Linked DNA regions of Homo sapiens. The protein of the gene in region 2 interacts with the protein of the main gene of each other region in a biochemical or structural test. Each region holds a gene or a part of one and is shown on either strand. Other genes may lie near its edges. The genes, in order: CXCL14 and ROBO3.

Evidence for each region.
Region 1: the proteins of ROBO3 (region 2) and CXCL14 form a complex in vitro, tested with the Homo sapiens proteins (one large-scale study listed by BioGRID).

The regions. Positions count from the first base shown.
Region 1 is NC_000005.10:135,570,173-135,573,396, forward strand, and holds the end of CXCL14 (C-X-C motif chemokine 14 precursor), read right to left. Parts: intron 1,697-3,224; coding exon 1,681-1,696; 3' UTR 507-1,680; downstream 1-506. UniProt on the Homo sapiens protein: Potent chemoattractant for neutrophils, and weaker for dendritic cells. Not chemotactic for T-cells, B-cells, monocytes, natural killer cells or granulocytes. Does not inhibit proliferation of myeloid progenitors in colony formation assays.
Region 2 is NC_000011.10:124,871,615-124,875,431, forward strand, and holds part of ROBO3 (roundabout homolog 3 isoform a precursor), read left to right. Parts: intron 1-766; coding exon 767-938; intron 939-1,269; coding exon 1,270-1,475; intron 1,476-1,695; coding exon 1,696-1,777; intron 1,778-2,082; coding exon 2,083-2,248; intron 2,249-2,455; coding exon 2,456-2,622; intron 2,623-3,173; coding exon 3,174-3,295; intron 3,296-3,496; coding exon 3,497-3,722; intron 3,723-3,817. UniProt on the Homo sapiens protein: Receptor involved in axon guidance during development. Acts as a multifunctional regulator of pathfinding that simultaneously mediates NELL2 repulsion, inhibits SLIT repulsion, and facilitates Netrin-1/NTN1 attraction.

The DNA.
Region 1 (3,224 bases), on a different chromosome or scaffold from region 2:
AGAACCACCCCCGTTGTGGTTGTTACCAGGATTCAAAGAGATAGGGCATGTAAGGCTCCCCGCACAGGGTCTGGCTCACAGTAGGCAATAATTACACCAGTCCTCTATTGTTGCCGTCCTTATGCAGCCCCAGGGAACTTGGAGAGCCCTTGGCTGAGGCATCCAGCCTCTTTGCTGCCCTCTGGTGCTGAGGCTCAGTGTGGTCTTGCGTGGAGGAGGCTGGGATCGTGACCCTCTAGTTCCCTGTGCTCCAACCTGCCTGCTCTGATACACCTGCTGCAGGGGTAGGAATCGTCGGGGAAGGAGCCTTAGCCTCAAGGCCTGGCTTCTTGGCTTCCTGACTGTAATGACAGCTCCACACGTTCCACAGAGGTGATGGTGTTGACAGGTATTTGGGAAATACCAGTTTTCTTTCCCAGCATATTTGTCCTTATTTTTTCAGGACATGGTAAACATTTTATTGTCATCCTAGCTTAATTAAATAGAAAAAAGGTGGCAGTCTAGAATTTTGGTACATTTCAAATATATTTTATTACTTTCCATCTTAGAAAGAATATGAAACCTGCATGCAATGCTAATGGTTTCTGACATGTACATAGCATATAACACAGCAGTACAATGCGGCATATACTGGGGGGCAGTGTGTGGAGGGGGCGTTCTTAAGGGTATATGTACAGAGGAAAGGGCGCATGGTCATCTTAGCTTTCGAAAGAGGACTGCACTGTTTAACATTGAAGAATTACATGGGGAATCACAAATATATTGCTTTAGTACTGCATGTTCTGTTGTGGTGAGGGAAAGAAACATGCTTTGAAGGTTTTCCCTTGTCAACAGAATGTGTGTCTGTAGCTGTGTATTGCGCATGTATTCATATATTTTTAAGTTTTCTCCTAAGGTTTTTGCTGACAGTGTTGGGAACCTCACATGCTTCTGAAGCATTAAATATTGAACCTGTGAACCTTTCAGAAATCCTCAGGTTGGGAAAGACCCCACACCTTCTTTAAGGATCATTTGTCTCGCCATCACAGGATCTTGGAAATGTTTCCTAGGGTGTGTAAAAATTAACCAGGGGGGAATGAAGCACATTTTTCTGGCAACCAAACTTGAGTTCCTCAGAGAACAGATGCAGAGAGACCTGCTCCTGCTTGCCCGGCTACAGGGGCCACTGTGGAGTCACACTGAGGCTGTGACCGGCCATAAGCCCAGGAGAGCCCGTGGCAGCTGTGCCGAGGCGCCAGGACCTCTAAGCGGAAGCTTCCCAAGCTAGGAATGGAGCAACACTGCAATGAAATGTGTCCACCAAGCTCATTGTTCCTCCCGGGCGCTTATAAAGCTCAGATGTATAGTGACGTATGGACAAATACAAAAAAGCATTTTTTAAAAAGGAAAGGCATGAGTTTTCCCCTTTTTGATAAAAAGCAGCCTGTGATGAAGTCTGGAGCACAAGAGAGATGGGTCTCCCATCTGGAAGCCTTTCGCACGCAGCTATAAAATGTAAAAACTGACCGTTGGTAAAAAGTGCTTCATAACAATATATAATTTGTGTCTTATGCCTGTGAGAAAGAAAGGCTTTTTTTTTTTTTTTTTTTTTTTTTTTTTTTTTTTTTTTTTTTAATCTGCAAAGTCCTTTGCACAAGTCTCCCAACTGGTTTGGAGTTTTCCCTTCTGAGGTTTTTCACCCTATTCTTCGTAGACCCTGGGGAGAAAAAACACATGTGTAAGTGGCTCAGGACATGAGGCAGGCCGTTCACAAGATGCTGGCTAAGCGGCTTCATTCACGTCTGGTCTGCAGGGAATGCCCCTGTCCCAGAACTGCAGGAACCCCCAGGAGAAGTGGGAGGGATCCTTCTGAGGATGTGGTCCCGGGGACCATGAAAACTCACACCAGTGTGGCTTTGTCTTTTCTAACCATCTGCAATCTCACTTCTGCAATCTCATTTTGTCCTCAGAGGCCTATGGAACAAACCCGCTTTGCATATGAGGAAACTGAGGCACCACAGACTTAAGATTTGCCCAGTGGCCACCGACTGTTAGTGGCAGGAATGTAGTCTTTCTCTAGCATGGCGGGCTGCTCCCACACCTCCTTGTTTCTTTCCGCGTCTGTACTCAGCCTCTCTATTTAGAGAAAATAGCAAGGGTGGGAGGCATTCCCTTACTTGACTTAGGCTTGTATATTTCTTTGTATTTTGCCCAAATAATGCATGTCCTCCAGAAGAATGCTAGCTCTAGAAGCTGCTTCCTGGAGACAGAAGAGGTGGTTGGTGGGGTGGGGCAGTGGTGCAGGAGGCCTGTGCCCCTCAGTCCCTGCTCCTGGCTGCATTGCCTCATCTCTACTCGTTCCCAGCCCCACCTTCCCCTCACCTCTCAAGCTGTGCCCAGTTAGATATTTTGCTTTCTTCTAGTTCTGCCCCATGGCTGCCCTGGGGCCATACGTTACACTTAGCCTATCACTTTTCTGTCTCGTTCTTGATTTCTGAGTAAGACCACTGAATTATCCATTGAAATAAAATGCCTGACTAGGCTGCTTCCTGTGGTGGCCAGAAGCTCCCTGGAAGCTCTGGTCTCTGAAGTGCACAGAGCTCCTCTGTGTGGCCCCCATGGGCCTGAGCCCACCGTATACCCTTCTACTTCCTCCAACCTAGCTTTGGCATTCTCTTTCTCTCTCTCTCTGTACAAAGAGGACTTCAAACACTTCCTTTATCACTGTTCTATGTTCATTAAGATATTTTCAACTTGTTTCAGGGGAGGGAGGTGGGGAGGGCAGGGACCTCAACACTCTAAGAAAGAGGGGTGAACTAATTTTATAGCAAAGTGAGAGAAGGCCTGGTAGTGAGAGGCTCTCGTTGCTTTTGTTATTGGAATTTTCAGGAAAAAAAAAAGCAGGGCCATGTTTAGACCTGTGGGTGCCTCCTTTTCCAGGCTGCAGCTCAGGTGGAGGGGAGAAGCAAGGTGAGCTAAAGGTTTGAGTATCCCCCAGCAATCAGATCAAGATGCCCTCAGCCTCTTCCATAACCTGCCCATGGGATTAGCCTTCTGCCAGTTTTGATGACACAGGGCCTGGAGGGTGACAGAGTGTGGACTGCGCAGTTCTGGCCTTTGCCACATGAGCTGCCTGGCTTGACCAGAAAGAGGGCTTCATTCCCAGCAGATTTATAGAAAATAATTTATTGCTCTCATCACTTTCTATTTCAAGCAACTGCAGATGAGGCTGTTTTGGAGGCAGC
Region 2 (3,817 bases):
CAAACAAATCTCAAAATCCAGAAGCAGAATGAACATTAACTGAAGTTACCACATAAATAACTCTCTCTAAAGGAAGGGTAGGAATTTTGCTACTGGAAACAGGGTCAGCAAGATAAAGTAAGTATGATGAGCTCCACTCTGTTGGAAAACAAGGCAACCTGCTACCTCATTCCAAATCGACAGCCACAATTTTCTAACATCTTTTCTAGCACCTGGGACTGCTGAATTCTAATTAGATTCTCACATGAATAAAAAGGGTGACGGTTAGTAGGGGTGAAGCAGGTGTTACCCAGGGTCTCAGCATGGTGCCCTTTGTCCTGAGACCCAAACCTGCTTCCCTGTCTAATCTAATGGATTATCTTCCATGGATCTATGGAATGAAAACTGTTCAAGCAGGAAGAAGAGGAATGTGTTTACCACAACGTGTTAGAAGACTTTCATATGATTACTTCATGTGATCTTTATAACTATCCTCTAGAAGTCAAATTTGGGAAATTGGGGCTCAGGCAGGTTAAACAGCTTGTTCAGGGTTTCCCCACTAGTAAGTCACGGAGCTGGGAAGTAGACTCTGAAATTGTCTAATAAAATTCCCTGATGTTTTTGTGAATACATTTAACTACTTTGCCCAAGTTCACATCACTGCTGGAGACAGACGATGAACTAGAATCATAGGAATTCTCTGAATTTTGAGATTGACAGGAATGGGGACCTCTCCCTGCCCAGCTGCCTGCTCATTCCCTACCCTGGTTCCTTGCTCTGTCCCCAGGTCCTGCTTTTCCCCAGTCAGTCACTTCAGCCGACGGGGCGCTTCTCAGTGTCTCCAAGAGGCCAACTTAACATCACCGCGGTGCAGCGTGGGGATGCTGGGTACTACGTGTGCCAGGCTGTCAGTGTGGCTGGCAGCATCCTGGCCAAGGCCCTGCTGGAGATAAAAGGAGGTACGTGCCCATGGAGATAGGACTGGATCCATGGCTTGGGAGGAAATAATGGCCTAAAGTGATGTGTTTCTCTTGGAGTCTATATACTATGTCTGCAAGAGGAGAGATGTGTTCCTGAGGCATGACCTTGAAGTTTGGAAACCAGCAGCAGAAGCCACTAATAATGGCTGGTCCTGGGCAGAGACTTCAGATGATTATCAAAGCCCCCTCTGATCACCGGAAGTTTCAGGGGCTGGGGTAGGGAGGGTGAAGGAGCAGAGAATGAGGACAAGGGGCTGCCCGCGGGGCCCTAAGCTCCTCCCCTGAGGTGCACACGTTCTTCCTCTCTCAGCCTCTTTGGATGGGCTGCCTCCTGTCATCCTCCAGGGACCAGCCAATCAGACGCTGGTGCTTGGCTCCTCCGTGTGGCTGCCCTGCAGAGTGACTGGGAACCCTCAACCCAGTGTCCGATGGAAGAAGGATGGGCAGTGGCTGCAGGGGGATGACCTCCAGTTCAAGACAATGGCCAACGGTACCCTGTACATCGCCAATGTGCAGGTGAGTGTCACCCCTGGGGCCCTAGTAGCTGAGAATGGCTATCTGCTCCACGTTCCTTACACAAGTAAGTACTCACTGGGCCTGTAGCCCCATCTTTACCCCTCTGTTCTCTCAGAGCACCTAGTATCCAACATCTTCCCATCCTTCTGCTACCCGCCTCCACCCCCTCACTGGATCTTGCTCCACTCTCAGTTTGCCAGTGCTCTGCCCTCTCTTCCAGGAGATGGACATGGGCTTCTACAGCTGCGTGGCCAAGAGTTCCACAGGGGAAGCCACATGGAGCGGCTGGCTTAAGATGCGGGGTGAGTTTTTTCTTTCTTCCCTTATTTTGATAATACCTTCCTCCAAACCTGCTTCAACAGGTAGTCGATACCTCCTCAAACTCCGGGATTAACTTTATGTCACAAATGCCATGGTTACGGTGGTGAGGATGAGAAGGACAGTAGTGGTACCCATGGGAGGCAGATGTGAGTAGGGGTTCATATACTATAGCCCACTCTGACCATCACCGCAGCTCAGAGCTCCATAGCTCCCCTGGTAAGGAGACAGGTTACACTAGGATTATCCTTTCCCTATCTTTCTACTTAAAGATTATCTCCCACTGCAGAAGACTGGGGAGTATCACCAGACCCCCCTACAGAACCCAGTTCCCCTCCGGGGGCTCCCTCTCAGCCAGTGGTCACTGAGATCACCAAGAACAGCATTACCCTGACCTGGAAGCCCAACCCACAAACTGGGGCTGCAGTCACGTCTTATGTGATAGAGGCCTTCAGGTATGGAGAAAGTTTTGAATGCAAACCTGGAGAGTTAAAAGGAGGGGATCCTATGCCCTTAGGGTCTTTGCTATTGTGAGGTGGGATTCTCCAGTACCCTCTTGCAAGGGGAAGACATAATGGTCGTTCATAGAGAGTGGATGAGATGGAGTAGGCAGGTTGGGAGTTCCTGGCTTAGACAACCCTGTCATCTCCTTCTTGTTGTAGCCCAGCAGCTGGCAACACATGGCGTACTGTGGCAGATGGCGTGCAGCTGGAGACACACACAGTCAGCGGTCTGCAGCCCAATACCATCTACCTGTTTCTGGTTCGAGCAGTGGGAGCCTGGGGCCTCAGTGAGCCCAGCCCCGTCTCTGAGCCTGTCCGTACACAGGGTAAGGTCAGAGTCCCTGGGCTCATGAGCATGAAATGTAACATCATAAAGCAACCCTCTCCCCCAAAACCATGACACCACGGCAGTTCATACAGTTCTTTCCTGCTATGCCAGGTCTATACTGGTGGCCCGGCCTGGAATAGGAGATCATGTTTGCCTCTCACAGAAGAGACAAGGGAGGAGGAAGGCAGGGAGAGGGGAGGAGGGAAGAAGGAAAGGGAGAGAGGTAGTCATTCATTTTGGCAGCTTCTGACTTCTGAGCCTTTTACCCATAGATAATAATATAGATTATTAAGACTAGAAGGGACCATGGAGGGGCCATCTTCATCTTAGAGATGAGGAACTGAGGCCTTTAAAGGATGCATGTGTAATTATGCTAGCTGGACACCGAGGCCCATGTCTGGAAGCTATTTTCCTGACCAGTCCCCTCCTGACCATGGGGTGTGCTCTGGAGTACTAAGTGGAGCAGGGCAGAGGTAGGACACGAGCACACTCTCAGCCCTATCTCCCTGTCCCTGGTGGCCTCTGCTGAATGGGTTCCTTGGTCAACAGATAGCAGCCCCTCTAGGCCAGTGGAGGACCCATGGAGAGGCCAGCAGGGACTGGCGGAAGTGGCTGTGCGCCTGCAGGAGCCCATAGTCCTGGGACCCCGGACCCTGCAGGTGTCCTGGACTGTGAGTGTGGTATGGGGAGGAGATTCAGGGTGGGGATGATTATGAGGCACATGAGGGCCTCCAAGAGTGAGTATGGGAGAGTGGGAGGTGAGTGGCTGGGGAAGGCGGCATGAGTGGGAGGAGGGGCTGGGCCTGGATGGCCTGGAGGGCCTGTATGGCCCCAGCCTCCCCTTCTGGTGTGCCTTGTCCTGTCTCCCACAGGTGGATGGCCCAGTCCAGCTGGTGCAAGGTTTCCGGGTGTCTTGGAGGGTAGCAGGCCCTGAGGGAGGAAGCTGGACAATGTTGGACCTACAGTCCCCAAGCCAGCAAAGTACTGTGCTAAGAGGACTCCCTCCAGGGACCCAAATCCAGATCAAGGTGCAAGCCCAAGGCCAGGAGGGGCTGGGGGCTGAAAGCCTCTCTGTGACCAGGAGCATTCCTGAGGAGGGTAAGGAGGGCCACCGAACAGATGGATGGACAAGAGGGAAGAAGGGGTGGGGGTGGAGGTGGAGGGGGGATGAAAATTTGCAGGAGGAGAGCAGG